Linked DNA regions of Homo sapiens: region 1 is linked to region 2. The links come from fine-mapping of genetic effects on gene expression. Tissue or cell type: whole blood. Region 2 holds a variant in brackets; the other region holds the start of a gene. All regions are shown on one strand. Distances are between the middles of the regions.

Evidence for each region. PIP is the estimated chance that this variant, and not a neighbour inherited with it, causes the effect.
Region 1: it holds the start of IFIH1, and the variant in region 2 is fine-mapped to the expression of IFIH1 in whole blood (INTERVAL, PIP above 0.99).

The regions. Positions count from the first base shown.
Region 1 is chr2:162,313,890-162,322,042 of GRCh38, forward strand. It overlaps IFIH1 (interferon induced with helicase C domain 1), which reads right to left and starts at 4,795. Exons shown (of 16, transcript NM_022168.4): 1 at 3,966-4,795. The coding sequence starts at 4,418. It also overlaps a transcript of GCA not described here. RefSeq lists a silencer at 4,590-4,679 and enhancers at 4,710-5,259, 4,828-6,027.
Region 2 is chr2:162,341,991-162,350,164 of GRCh38, forward strand. GCA (grancalcin) reads left to right here and starts at 2,142. Exons shown (of 8, transcript NM_012198.5): 1 at 2,142-2,285; 2 at 5,588-5,752. The coding sequence starts at 2,259. RefSeq lists enhancers at 1,699-1,928, 1,781-1,950 and silencers at 1,979-2,128, 2,369-2,448. The variant G/GGTGGTGGTGGTGGTT (reference allele first, on the strand shown) is at 3,141.

The DNA.
Region 1 (8,153 bases), 28 kb before region 2:
GACTTGGGTGCTCAACTTCATGTTGGGAGAACTGGACTGTTCTTAGGTGGACTAGTCATGGCATCTCTGGTTCTTCTGTGTAAATGGAAGGTGTGTGGAGTCTCCAGGACTACAGATGCATTGTGTTCTGAACTGGCCAGGGATGAAACATGCATCTCTCTTTAGCTGTTCAGCTTGATTATTAAGACACTATGGAAATGTTTATATGATCACTTTCGTTCCCAGAGTTCATGACTGCCTAAATTGATGGGTGTGCCAAGTTGTAACTTAGTTATAACTAAGATGTAACAATGCCAAATTGTAACTTAGCATCCTAAAAGAGGAGCAAGGCAGTACAGGGGTACCCCCTTACCATTAAGGATTGCTTTATTATAATGATTGATAAAATGGCATATATTTATTGCTGAAACTCTAGTATTTAGAATAGTCCCTTGTATACAGTAGACATTCTTCTTTCCTTCCTTCCTTTCTTCCTTCCTTCCCTCCCTCCCTCCCTCCCTCCCTCCCTCCTTTCTTTCTTTCTTTCTTTTCTTTCTTTCTTTCTTTCTTTCTTTCTTTCTTTCTTTCTTTCTTTCTTTCTTTCTTTCTTTCTTTCTTTTTCTTTCTCTCTTTCTTATTAGATGGAGTCTCGCTCTGTCACCAGGGTGGAGTGCAGTGGCGCCATCTCAGCTCACTGCAAGCTCCGCCTCCCAGGTTCATGCCATTCTCCTGCCTCAGCCTCCCGAGTAACTGGGACTACAGGCTCCCACCACCACACCCAGCTAATTTTTTTGTATTTTTAGTAGAGACGGAGTTTTACCGTGTTAGCCAGGATGGTCTCCATCTCCTGACCTCGAGAGCCACCCTCCTCGGCCTCCCAAAGTGCTGGGATTACAGGCGTAAGCCACCATGACTGGCCTACAGTAGACATTCTTTTATCAACACTAATTAACACTACAACACAACTTCACGAAAGGACAAAACAGTCTCTGTGTTTTTCTCCTATCTTTTCACCACTAGCATGGCATCCGGCACAAAGATGCCACTCAATAAATTCAAACTGAATGAATGAGTGAATGAATGAATAAGTTTTTGGGTACTTGCTGGACACAAACCTATGTATAAAGTCATTTTCAGAAGGCCTGCTGTAATTACGGGCAGGGGCTAGGAAATGGGGTGGGAATCCTAAATTAAAATAATAGATCAAGTAGAAAATGTCTATGGGGAAACAGAAAAAGAATGAAAATACAAGACCATTTTATAGAAGTCTTGATTACTTAGTTAAATGCTATTTTAAGCCTTCAAAAAAGCAAATTTGGAAATCTTATTTTCATCATTCATCCATTCTCTAACGCCTGGCAACACAATTCAATACGTCATGTGTTTTCAACGCTTATTCCAGACACTTTCAGAAATAAATTCAATTAGTCTATCAATCAAGTAATCAATGCTTACTAAACACCAACCCTCTACCTAATCCTAGTTAGGTTCTGGGATGAAAGAGGTAATTTCTTTTTCAAATCAGTATAATCTAGGGACTTTAAGAAGTATATCTCAATTGCGACATGGGGAATTTACCTCAATCTCTCAAACTTAAATTTACACAGAAATGTAACCAGATGAATGGTTACAAAAGTCAACACCATTATCATATCAAATAGCTCTGATTTATAAGCTTTTTCATAAACACTATTTCTGATTTGATGTTGACTAAAATACTGTGAGAAATTTTATGATGTCCATTTTCACAGGTAAATGTAGCATCAGGGAACTTCAGTAATTTGGCCCAAAGTAACGCATATAGTAAGAAGCCAAGATGGACCTCAAATCCATGTGTTCCCCTTCTACAGTCTTATCACACTTTGCTGCTGTAAGATAAACATTTGTCAATGACCACCACCTCAATATAGATTATTCTACCAAACTTAATGCTTCCGTCTCATTGTCCACCATATCTTAGTTTTGGAACTGATAATACATGTAAATGATGCACACAAAAATTATTCCACACTCTCACAGAGAAACTATTGCTTCCTAGAGAGCCTCAAATTTATAGCTGCTCAGTCTTTTGGGGCCTCCTTTGAAATGTGAATCAGAGGGAGAATTTGGGTTGTTTTGGCCTTAACTGCTACCAGTACACAAAAGTCCCGTTACTCTATATCTTCTTTGTGTCAAATCCCTTGCATTACTGCTAGCTGCCTCCAAGCTTGCCAGAATCAAGAACTTGGATAAAATCTAGCTGGCGGAAATTCAATCCAGGCAAGACAAAAGTGATGCTGATAGGCAGAAGTATTTAGAGTAAATAGGGAGAAGTGCTGTTTCGCTGGCAATCGGGACATCATACCCACCAAACATAAACAGCTTTGTGGTGTTACTGGACTCTGTTGCTTCTGGACTTCTAACAGCTACTGTGGCTGGAAATGCCATCTTCCATCTCCAGCTGGCTTGAAGGCTGCATACTTTCTTCCAAATTAAGATTCTGCCACAGTGATGTACACATTTGTCATATCCAGCTGGACTACTATAATGCGTTCTAGCTGGTTCTCAATACACAAAACGACATAAACATTACAGACAACAGTGCAAAGTAATTTACTTGTTGGGAAAACTGGCCATCAAAATTAGATGCATGTTTGGGTCTTTGGACAGGCCCTGTGTCTGTCAAGTCTACAAAAGATCACTAACTTTATTCACTAAAGACTAAATTGCATCATAGGCTATAGCAAATCAATCAAATGCCCAGAAGTTTGTATGAATATACAAACAATGGATGACCCAAAAGAGAGAGAGAGAAAAAAACCATGTGAAAATCATAGAGTGGTGTAGACAAAGCCTTTGACTTTTAGTCATGGCTTTATTTGTCTACATGTCTTCCAAAACAAGACTTTTGACTTACGAGCCTGAATAAGTCACATTCAAACAGGTCAGCATTTATACACATCACAGTACATCTTCACTTATCAAAAAATAATTCATATCACATTCAATGTAAAGTCATCAGTAAAATTCGCCCTGTCAAAATGCTACCTTAAGAAAAATGAGTTTCTTCACTAACATGAAAAACTGAAACTAGCAACACATTCTTTCAATGAATTGTTTCTAAATTTTGATTCTCAAAGAATGTTGAAACTTTGATTAAAGAAAAAGGGTGTGTGTGTGTGTGTGTGTGTGTGTGTGTGTGTGATTGCAATTTACCCATTTGGGCTAAGACTAAATGGCACAAAGTGTAATGTAGGGCAAAGATTGGAAAACTTTTTCTCTAAAATGCCAGATAATAAATATTTTTGGCTTTAAGGGCACACAGTCTCCATCCAATTGCCTTTGGAGTAGAAAAGCAGCCACAAGCAATATGTAAACAAACGAGCATGACTGTGTTCCAATAAAACTTTATGAACACTGAAAATTAAAAATTGAAAAATCTGAAGACCATTCTTAGCCTGTGGGCCTGAAAAAAACAGTAGCAGGCTTGATTTAGCCCATGGGCCGTAGTTTACTAACCCCTGCTCCATGGAACTACATTAAATAAGAAAAACATTCAACACTATCACAAGCTAAATTCTTAGCTCTGCCACTGTTTTTCCTGGGAGACCTTGGACAAATTATTTAACCTGCCTCAGGTTTCTCATCTGTAAAATGGAGTTAATAACATTAGGAGCCTCAGTGGGTTACTCTGAACATGAACTGTAGTAATACATTTTGAAAATGATACCAACTGCACATAGTAAGTGTTCAATAAAAGTTACCTGTTAATACACATTACGATTCTAGAGTTAACTCCTTTTTACTTCAGTGAAAACATTAGAAAAGTAGTTCTTTTGTGTTTAAATTTTTAAAATTGTCTTAAAGTGCCTAGATGTTGTCTTCTCAAAGGAAGAAACTAGATTTGCCCAAAGAGGTCAAGCACATTTGGAAAGGGGCAAACGCACAAGGAAGCCTGCTTTGCAAAATCTGCCTAAAAGGCTAGCTCCATCTGAACAGACACCTACCCGGTTTCTGTCTTCAATTGTCAACAGTTCCTCCTCCATGCACTTATCCAAGACGTCTCTAACTAGAAGCTTGTCCACCAGAGTGGGCTGAAGGAGGTTCAGCAGTTGGAGATATTCATCATGAGCGTTCTCAAACGATGGAGAGGGCAAGTCCGTGAGCTCAGGGTTCATGTAGCGGGCGGCCAGAGGGCTGCCGGTTCTCCGGAGGGCCTCCACGAATTCCCGAGTCCAACCAAGGTGCCAGACTCCCTTCTCCAAGGTGCTCAGCAGCAGTTCAACTGCCTGCATGTTCCCGGAGGTGGCGACTGTCCTCTGAATCTGCTCCTTCACCTCTGCAGGCAGAAAGGTCAGGTAGTCCAGCACAGGCTCCACCTGGATGTACATTTTCACCCTGGCCCTGAAGCACGAGATGAGATAGCGGAAATTCTCGTCTGTGGAATACCCATTCGACATCTTTCTTTCTCAGAGAAGGGAGAGGGTTCTCCCAAGCAGATGGTGCTGTTGTCTGCGGGACAGGTGAAATGTGCGTGCCGCTGTCCGCTGCCCACTTAGAGAAGCAGGGTCTACCGCTCTGTGCCTGACAATGACGAGGTTGTCCACAGGGCTCTCAGGCCGGCGCGCGGGGCTGCACTCGCACCTGGGCAGGTGGGCAGGCGGGCAGGTGGGCAGCGGGGCGGCGCGCGGGGCCGCGGCAGGCAGGTGCGGCCGGCAGGCGCGGCACTTTGGACTCTGCGGTGTGCGCCTGGGGTCCCGGACCGGGGCGATCCTGCTGCACACTCGGGTAGGAGCTTTGAGTCCAGCTTTCTGTCAGGCAGTTCTTACAGAGTTTGCCTGACTTTGGTTTCTGTTTCGATTCTCTTCTCAGGACTTTGTAAACGTAATCTGCCTGGCGGGGAGGGAGTTTCCTCAGGGAGACGCCACCTTTTGGTCGGGGCGGGTGAAGAGAGGAGGCCTTTGGTTAAGGACACCGCGGGAAACAGAAAAGGAAAGCGAATTCTCTCTGACACCAAGACCAACGCTCTAGCAAAGCTCCTCCGGCGGATATTTTGTTTTCCCAGCAGGTTCTGCCTTAACAATAAGGTCCTTTGTAGGCCAAAATGTGCAGGGCATAAAAGCATGTGATTTGGGACTTTCCAAAGGGGAAGTGAACAGAAACTGCCACAGACCCGGACGTGAACAGGGAGTTACCCTCGGCTGGTGAATGTAGGCAGGCCTGGCTGAGGGTGGTGAGACTGCGAGGGACAGGTGAGAGATGAAGCTCAGAAGACATCTTTGCAGAGATGTGGAGAAGACAGGAGGAAGTCCTTCCTAAAATAAACCTGACCTCCTGTGGGTTCCCAAACACTAACTTGTTTCCCTGGGAATTTGGAGGTGGGTTCGAAAAAGTGAGTAACAATAAACAGTTAACTTTACTGCCTCATATTTAGATTGCTGGTATTTATGCAGCTTTGACCAGGACCTGGTAACAGATGTGGATGGACTTGAACCACCAACTCAGCTTAGAAGGAAGCCAAGACTTAAAGTTTCCTAGATCCCAGCTTGTAAGTTCCCTATATTCTTTAATATACAACTTTCCTTTAATAAAACAAAACAAAAAAATCCCCCAACAACTTATTTTTGATATAGCTGCCATTCTTTTCTTGGATTCAATACAGCAAGTTTTGGCTGGAGCAGCTAGGAACTTAATTAGCAACTAATGTACCAACTTGTAGTAAACATCAACATTTGTCTATGTCATGAGAGAAAAAAAACATATTCACACTGAAAAATGGCAGCTTCATTTTGGTACAGAAGCCACATAAATGTGAGTCCTTAAGGTTACTACTCATTCTGAAGGCATTCTGTAGCCACATGTGACTGTGGGTGGTAGGCACATACGCACCATAACTAGAATCTCATGGTCCAGAATTATATAAAGGATGGAGAGATCATTTAGGTTATCAAAGAGACATATTTAGGAAAAATAATCTGTTAGCAAAGTACATTCAATAAAGTCTGTGTAGGCCAGGAAAACCTGATAGTGCTTTGAACAGGATAATAGAAGTACAGAGTCTTGGTGAGTGTTTACTAGGGGCATACAAAATATCCAAATGAGCACTTTATGGTAACATGTCTTATTTTATTCTCTAATTATCTTATGTAGCAAGGCTTTTTCTACCCCTGAAGGATTGTAAGCTGCTTGAAGAAGGGATATATTTACATAGTAACTAGTACACTACTCACAACTGGTGGGCTCTTGATGACATCTCTCCTGGGAGTTGTATTTGAGTTGACCATAGCAGCTGGCATAATGTTAAATACACTGAAAGTTGAAGTAAATGAAACCTTGGGCTTGCAGGTAGGCCTGATTTATACTGTTCTTTTCTGTTTCTTCACAGAACCCTACTCCTTTTTCACTTAATTTTGGGAGATGACCTTGTACCCAGATAGAGGATAATCCAATTAGATGTTTCTACAAAAGCACTCAAATTATTAATTTTAAGTATTGGGTCTATGAAAATATCTTTTAAGGCTGTTGCAAAAACATACTCCTATCCCCCAGCTGCCAGTGGGTTTTATTCAACATGTTAAAGCACAAACTAACAAACCAAAAAACATTCTTTTTCCTGGCACTTATCCTTCTGTTTCTTGGTTTCAAACATGGGGGAATGAGAAGGGGTTGCTGACTGAATATGGGGAACCAGTTAATGTTATTTTCTTCATACCACTTAATTGTTGCTCTGGAAGAGAAAGGATCAAATGTTTGGTATTTGACCTGTTCTCAAATAATAAACATTTAAACCAAAGATATTTAAATATTTGGCATTCAAATTATATCATTCATTGTATCATCTAGTCATTTAAAATATGTTTATTAAGTATCTATTACATGACCAGCACTGATCTAGGTGCAGTTAATAAAATTAACAAAGCTCCTACTTTTATGGAGTTCACATTCTAATGGGAGTGGGAAGATAGATGGTAAGTAATGACTAAAAAATATGCAATGTGCAGGTGAGGATAAATGCCCTGAAGACCATAGTAAATCTACATAATAATGTATATTACAGTTTCACAGGTTGATTTCCCAAATAGTCATCCTCCTCTAACCCTATTAGCATCACATAATACCCAACAATAACAATTCATATTTTCTCACAAGTAGGAGTCTCTCTGCTGGATGAGGTCTGAGTGATGAGGATTAGGTGTGGGTGGAAGGGACTTCTTTTTTAGGAATCTCCCATAGTCTTGATGGGACCCTTTTTGGAGAAAGGAGGTTAAGGAAACAAAAGCCAAGACACAATCTCTCACAATGTATCCTTTTTTCATCTATATTTTTTGCATCATGATTTAGTTTATTTTCTGTTTTTCACTTGAGTAATTAATTGTTTTCCTCTGTCAAGTTTCTTCTACTAGGTTTCATTTTAATCCTTTTCACCAGTTCCCAAATGTAAGTTTCTTTTTCCTTTCTCTTTTGAGGCAGGAGATCCTGCTGAACTATGTATTTTCCCATTGTTATGCAACTTTTCATTTGAGTTTTTAAGAAGTAGTAACAATATGAGCTGCCACTACAATTTAACGACCATGCATAGCAATAATGTCTTTTTCAAAGAAAATGACAATAATTTTAGTTTAGTGAGAAACCCTGGAATTGTTGTTCTGTTCCTTTACTTGTTTGCTCATTTGTATCAATAATGAGCCTGCTTTGTGTAATTTAAAGTGTTAGATGCTCTTAACCTGGCAGTGTGGGGTATGGTTAAGCACAGAGACTCTGAGTTCAGGCTGTCTGAGTTCACATCTCAATACTATTTCTTAATTGCTGTGCTTTGAAAAATCACCTCAAATACATCAGTTGTAAAATGGAAAGATTCTGGTATCATGTCAGAAGTTTGTTCTAAGGATAGACTGTAACACACTAGCACCAGCCTGGCATGTTTATGTGCCCAATATGTGACTCCAGCCCACTACGCTTATATAAAAATTAAAGAAGAGATGGTGCGGTGCTAGTCTTCAAAGAATGCACAATTTATAAAGGAAAAATTTAGTTACATATATATATATATATATATATATATATATATATATATATATATATATATACACACATACATATAAACACTATATAATAGCTAGCCATTTAACTGAGACTTTAAGCAAGACTTTCAGCCATTTAACTGAAACTGATAGGCTGATTTAGCAGGAAAGTTT
Region 2 (8,174 bases):
GAAGGATTTTATTAAAAGAAAAATATTTAAAAAGCAAATTTTTTAAATAGACATGACATTTTCATAAAATGCTATTGTTCATACAGTATTAACTTGACTCATGGAGGCAAATTAACATTACTGTTATTTAAAAAAAACTCTATGGCCTTATTTGAATTTTTATACTAGAATATTTAAAATTTGAAACACTAGTTTTAGAGAGAGAGATGCTGTGTTGTTCAAAGTCCTCCTCTGCATCTTCATGGTAGGAACTTTCTTTGGTAGCCCTTTCTCTAAGTTAAGAGATATATTGGCAGGAACTATGAAGGATCTGATATTTTACCCTAGTTATAAGCAAACAAGTAGAGTGCCACAGTTTCATGGAAGTTGGCAGAATGTGTGAGATTCCTGAGTCTGAGACAAATAACTTTATTACTCAAAGCACAACAGGCACCATGAGCTTCATACTTCCATAGATTCCCCTCGTTCTGAAGTCCCACAAGGCGAAGAGGAGCTGCCAGATGGGTGTTGTACATGCACTGTGTTTGTTATGCAACTGGAAGAACTCCAAGCTTAGGAAAGTCCTAAGAAGGCTGCTAGCAAACGTACCCAAACTTTGCCCTGGCAGGAAATACTATCTTTGCAATTAAATGTGCAGAAAGGCAAGAAACCCATGGGGCCTTAACTCCCAACTGCACAAATGCAGCTGCATCAATAAGGCTATTTTGATGAAAACAAGATGCACAAAAATTTTGACCACAGAATCAGACTAACATTGTAAATGTAAACACTCAATCCTTCCTAAGCAGTTCTTTGAATATGTAGTTAATCCGTTGGAATAAAATTTTGCAATGGTTTGTTCTTTCTAGCGCTTTATCATTTGATACCTTCATAAGCCATGCATTTTTCCCTTTTGCCACGTAGGTTTTACCCTTCCCCTCTATTTATTTATGCCAATAATTTAACCTTAGTGGCTTAAGTATTTCTTACAGCATTGAAGGAACTTACAGACACTTTCCCAAGAGTAGCTAGGACATCGGCAATCTTCCTTTCTCTCTGCTGTTTCCTCTGAGAATTGTTTCACAAGGTCCAACATCCTCTTCTGTAGCATAGCTGAACAACAGATACTCAGCTCTGCAAGGCTGATTTCCTTTGTGAATAGTTAACATTTTTTTGATAGCCTTATTTTTAAGAAACATGTTAGCCCTTCTCTTGTTCTTCAGAGATAACTCAAAATAATATCATTTGGTTTTTTCATTTGTTCATAAGCCAAAGCTACAGCTGCCTTGTCCTTTTAAAGTCAGAGCTACAAAATTCATTTGAGTTCCAGAGATAAATCAGACTTGTCCATTGCTATTACTTAATAAGCCAAAGTAATTGAACATTTAACAAGAGTTTGCCCAAAGGCTGAGTCAGATTATATACAGGACACCGTCTATATTATCAGTGTATAAACAGCAAATAAGTTTTTAGTGTATGTTCACGTCCTGTGCAATATTTGGGACATACTTACACTAAAAAAGTTTATTTGGAAATCAACTTTAACTAGATATCCTGTTTATTTGCCAACATGCCACAATTCAGGTCACCATTTATCTACCAAACAGAATCAATAACCTGTTCGTCCAATGTGGCCTCAAGTGGGTTTTGGCGCAGAAGCACTCCTCCTGGACCACAGGTGTGGTCCTGGTTGCAAAGTTTTGATGTGACATCAACACTACACAAAAGTAAATGTAACTGCAAAATTTTGAAATTCACAGATGGGTCTTTGAAGTCCAGCTCAAAAGCGTGGAGGGCTGGTTAAAATAAGTCACAGACTTGCCGGTTTGGGGTTTCTAGAAAGAAAAGTAACTTGAGGAGTTGAAGGCTTGTAGAAGACCTTTCCACAGAGAGTGGGAATTCCGTTGCAGCAGCCAAGGCTTCTTCGGGATTTAGAAGGAGAGCGCGCGAGAACCTGAGGGAGCCAGTAAGAGTCGAGCAGGGACTGGAGGGCTCCCGATGGGGTGTAGCCAATCAGGGCAGAGATGGGTGGGGCTAGGCTGCGGGAAGGGGCGGACTGCAGCTGAGTTGGCTCCAAAGTGTGGGACTCAGCCAATCGGAACCGTGCAGGGCGGGGCTGGCCTGCGGAAGGGGGCGGGTTCGGAGGAGTGAACTGTGCGGTTAGTGCGCCTTTCAGCCTCACCTGCAGCTGCGCCTCCTTGCACCTGCGCCTGTGCTTTTTCTCCCAGCACTGCGGACGCGACTCGAGGGTGACGCTCGCTCCGCTCGTCCCGCTCGTCATGGCCTACCCGGGATACGGAGGAGGGGTGAGTCCCAGCCGCTTGGTCGTGTCCCTCTTCCTCGCGGGGTGTGGCGCCCCCGGGGGCGGTGCCAACGTGCGGGTCCGCCCTTGGCTCCTGCTCCCTGCGTCCGCGCCTGGTACTCGGCGGCGCCGGATTCCGGGGCTGTTGGGGGCCAGGGCCTGGGCGAGCATTGATCCTGGGCTGACTTGGAGCCGCAGGTTTTCTGGTCGTTGAGGACCCTCGAGGAGCGTCCTGGTGGAGCCGAGGGAGTAATGTGTGTTTGGAAATTTATTTCCTGGAATGGAGGAACAAGCCACCCTCTTCTTGTTCCAGTAATCGTTTGTGGTACTTCCCTCCCCCGCCCCCCACTCAGTGTTGCTAGAGATCCTCTTTTTGAATTTCCTGACCACTTCTTGTTCTTTAAGTTCCTTATGAATAAATTAAGGTGTACGGTAAATAACTCCTAATCTTTACTGTTATACGAAGGGCAATCTGTTCTAGACTCCCCCGCTCGCCCCCAGGCGGGGGGAAGTTACTCTTTGTTATAACTTTTATCCTGCATCACCTTTGGGAGTTGCAAGTTATAATCGTAGAGTCCTGGTGGCTAGCCCCTTCTTTTCAGAAAGGAGCCCAAACCTTTAGTATCGATGTCAGTGATCTACACGCTGTGTTAACAGAGTTAACAGTAGTTTGATCCATTGCGGTGTGGGTAGAATATAATATATTTTCTATTTGTTTTTTACCTAAAAAGAGAAATTGTGTTTTACTGATTTTAATATAGGACTTGACTTTGGGCTATGGTTGTGGTCTTCAAAAGAGTTACTCCTACCCCTTGGAGTTCATGGTGGTGGTGGTGGTGGTGGTGGTGGTGGTGGTGGT[G/GGTGGTGGTGGTGGTT]GTGGTTGTGGTTGTGGTTGTTGTTGTTGTTTTAGGATATGAATTTCCAGGTCCTCAACTTCCACACATACTTGTTCCTAAAATTGATTTGCTTTCCTTAAGACTTGCCTCAATCCCCTCTGGCACCGTCCACTTTGTAATGCCTATGCCTCCTCAGTCCTTAAATTTAGGAAGGAAGTTTAAGGTACCTAAGGAAAGTAAAGCCCCTTCGAAGATTAATCAAGATAGCATAAACCTGTGGGTCTTTAAAAACGTCCCTAGCGTATACGTATTTTCATTTGGTTGAAGCTATCTGTTAGAAGTTTGTATATTTACTCCTCTTGGTATGCTCTGAATTCATATATGTATGGTAGAGTGAGGTGGCAAGAGTAATACATTTTCATTCAAATAATTTGGTGCTTCCTTACCCACTTTTGTCAGAGTGCTTGAATTTGATGGAGAGTTCCACGACACAATAAAGAGAACGTCTGTATGTGTTTTGAATATTTAAATCCCCTTTTCCATGAATTTAAAATAAACAACTCTTTTCAGCTGTTGTCATGCTCATTATTAATCGCCGGAAAGAGAAGTACCCTCAATAGCTGAAGCAATATATAGATTAGAGGCACTGATTTTAAAAAATGTAATTGAAATATTTTAAGATACATTGGATAAAATTTTGGGATAAAACTTACATGATTTCTTTAGTAGGAGAATATTAATAAGATAGTTGAGACGTTTATAAATCCTGTTAAAGGAAACCCATGCCTTATTAATGTTTCTTATATTCTTTTAACAAAATATAAAATGTCAGCTGCTAGACCTAATTGTTTTGATAGTATACTTTTATCTAATTAAGTGCATGATTTATCTCTGTAGGAGATGCATTTCCAATAGATTTTTACTTTCTTCTTTTAAGAATTGTTTATAAAAATTGTATTATTTTCTTTTTTTTACTAATTGTATACGAATAAAAATTATAACTCAATGTAAAGGACTTTTTTCTTTGTTTCTCACTTTGGTCACAGGAAATGAAACAATCTAAAACTTCGTTACATGTTTTTGTTTGTACATGTTGTATTATACAAGCTTCAGTGTTTTCAATAATAAAAAAACATTTTAAGCACAGAAAACTTAAACAGATTAGATTTTCACACAAGAAATAGCATACAAAATCAATTCAAAGATGAAGAATCTGTCCTTAGGAATAACTTTTAATCTGTTTTCCCTTCCCAATTTGCAGCATTAGCTTTCCCCAGTCCCATAATTTGAGAACCTGGTGGTCAGATTAATGATGGTTACCAATTCTTTACCACTCCCCTTATCGAAAGGCACAGACTATTTCTCCACTTTCTTCAATCTGGATTGGGCCTGTTTCACCTTCATCTGGTAGAATACAGTAGAAAAGACACCATGGCAGTTCCAGACTCAATATTTTAAGAGGACTGGCAGCTTCTCTTTCTCTCTCTTAGAAGCTGACTGCCAAGCTATGAAAAAGTGGAAGAGCCATGTGAAAGGGCCCATGTGGAGGAGAACTGGGGCCCCTGGCCAACAAGGTTCATCCCTAAACACGGTTTACATAAATTTATATTTCAAGTTGTCCTCTTGACAGTTTCAAATGAGTCAAAATTGATCATTATTATTATTACTACATAATGTGGGTAAGGAAAGGCTTAGACAATATTTTCATGTCCAAGCCTTTCATGTTGCTTTGCATGTTTTTGAATCTTTACTATTGCCATTTTGTTATGGCTTTAGTTAAAACTAGATCACATAATCTGTAACATCAGAGAATCCCACATATATAAACTGTAATAAGTCACAATAGGCTGAAAAGAAACAAGTGGGAGGCCAGCATACAGAACTCTATGTCATCCCTCAGGATACTACCAGAACCACAGCAGTTTCTTTAAACATTTTGCTTCCCGCCCCTTAAAAGATTTTTGAAAAACTATATACCCTTTTCCCATATTTTATATTGACATATAAAGTTTTTATTTTAAGTTTAAATAGTTGTAAAGAATACAATACCCAACATATTGTAAATGTTGACACTTAAAGTTTCATTGTATTTACACATATATTCTTCTAAGTATGTGTCTTGAGGTTTACTTCTTAGTTTTACTTTAGGTAAAATCTTGCATTGTTTTACTTTTTGTTTACTTCAGTGATGTTGGTAAACATTTTTTAAAATTGTACATGTTCCTCTTAGATTAAGTTCTTAGAGGCTAGTAACTTTCTTTTTTCTTTTATACTTCTTTTAATGCTGGGTAATATATGTTGATGAATTGAATTATGTCTTAATGTAGGACATCTAACATTTTGTAGTTAAAATTTTTGTGATAAGATTATAAGCTTTTGGTAACTGTTTACTTTTTGACGGACTTCTAATAATTTCTTTTAATCCAACTTTCATAGATAATAGGTAGTATTTATATTACTAACCTTCTCCCCTTTCACTATTATAGTTTGGAAATTTTAGCATTCAGGTGCCAGGAATGCAGATGGGACAGCCAGTGCCAGAAACAGGCCCAGCTATACTCCTCGATGGATACTCTGGGCCAGCATATTCAGACACTTATTCCTCAGCTGGTGACTCCGTGTATACTTACTTCAGTGCTGTTGCTGGACAGGTGAGATGCTAAATTTATTGCATAAATATGTCTTTAAAATTATTGTTTAAGAGAAATGTCAGCTATTTAGAGTATCATTTTAAATGTATATGAAATTTATATTTTATATGTATCTAGACTAATTTTTTTCCTGAGATCAGAGATGAGCATAGTCATAATTATTTCATTTTAAAAGTCTGTTGATGTGATGCTTGATACATTGTTCATTTGACTAAAAGAGGAAACATTGTTTTCCATAGTGCGGAAATCTGATTCTTTCTTACCTAGTATGCTTGCGTTACTGAAATTCTTCTACAAGGGGCTCCTCTTACTAGTCACTAAACACCCCACCAAAACTTAGATATATCTTCTTATGAGTTATAATTTTTCTGTCACTTAAATCTTTTTATTTCCTTCACTCTGTTTGACATTTAGGAGCATCATACTCTCCCTGAGTGATAGATAACACAAAGCTAAGTAGGTTTAGCCTGCACATTCTTTTATAGCATGCAAAAATGACTATTGGAAATTTTAGGAAAGTAGGAAGCACTTTAAAAAATTATAAGGAACAATATTTCTAACTTGGGCCTCACTCCCATTTTTTAAAAAAAACTCAGTTAAAACCTAAGTATGTCAAACAATATGATTGGAAATCACTTCAGAGTCTCGTAAATTTATTCAGGTTGAGAAATTACATTTTTTTCACAGGTGAAGTTATATCATTTATAGTAATTTTGATTTGATATGGCTGGTAAATTTTCCAGGTTATCAAAATAATCATGTCAGGATTTATTAATTAAAAATTAAAGGAAATAGTATGTTACGATGTGGTATGGTTTTAGGATGTTATTTGTTTCCAGTAAATTTGAGTGATTATTTAAAGGACTGACTTTATTATGACCAATAGGGACGTGTGAAACTGCCAGTTCAAGTACATGAATTCTGTGGGTGAATTGTTACTGATGATATGTGAATACTGTGGTCAACGGAAGCTTTTCTTTTACTCCTACATAACTGTAACACCATACCACAGTTTATTCTTTTCCAAGTGATTTTATATATATTTTTCATGTGAAATTTCAAGGAAAATTAAGCAAATAGGATATGTATTATACCCCTTTGTATCAGTTATTAGTTGTATTTGACAGAAGTATTGAGTAAATATTCAAGATCGGAAGGAATACAATATTATAAGATGCCAATGTCTTCCAAATTAATTGATAAATAATATAATATTATATGAGTCAAATTCCTAAAGGTTTCTTTTTCTTTTTTCTTTTTGGCACTTGCTGCAATGATTCTAAAGTCTGTCTTGTATACTATGTTGTTGAGAATAAATATTAAATTATAATATATCATATAAATGTATTATTAATAATTGTGATAGTGTGGTCCTAATGTAAAAACAAACATAATACTGAAGAGCCCAGAAGCTTACCTGTGAATTCAGTATATGGTAGAGGTAGCATTTCATATCAGTGGGGAAAGAATGATTCCTGAATTAACTATCCTGAAATAATTAACAGTTTATCTAAAAGTAAATGTAAATCTTCAGCCTGTACCATATAGTAGCATGAATTCCAGATATATTAAAGGATTGAAAAGAGGGTGTATTGATGTTTATCTCCTGTTGTTGAAATAAATGAGCTTGTCTTTTTTTTTTTGCTGCTGCTTCAGCATGTATTGCAGCACCTGCTATATTTGTGTTTTTGTCTACAAAACTTCTTAGAAGAGTGATGAACTAAGATAGTTGCATGTGTTAATGAAACATTTGGGAACATCTTTTTAAGATGTGTGTTTTTTTTTCTTGATATGTTTCATTCACTTGTTTAACAATTTGGGGGGAAAGTTGAAAGCTCTTCTGTGGTTATGGAATACAGTGGATTGGTGCATGGAGACTGGGGGCCAGAGAGGATTTGGAAAAAGAGATCTACATGAAAATCATCTTGAAGGAGTTGGGGCAATGTATCAAAGAGGAGATTTGTAAATTGTGGATGGTTCTGGGACAGGCTCGATGATAAAACAGATTAGGAAAAGGCAAAGAAACTGGCAGAATGGATGTTCTAATACCATACTAATGGGCAGAAACAGAAATTCACTCTAGAGTCTTAGCTGTAGTCCATATCTCTTTTCTTTTATAATGGTCAAGAAAGATTTATTGATGTAGGTAGAATTTTATAGAACTTTAATAACATTTTATTCATTCCCTTGAGTGTTCACTAGGTCTAATGTGCTTTTCTAGGATTAGACAATATACACAGAATTAATATACGTGGCAGACATTCTGTTTTGGCTACCCCAATTTCATTTAAAACCCCCTTTTACCTTTTATTATGTAATAGAGGCTGGGGAACTATAATAGTCACCATCCCAGATACCTTTGTAGCTATTAAAGGCAGCCATGTGCCGTAGGACTGACCATTGACATGTAGGTGCAGTATCT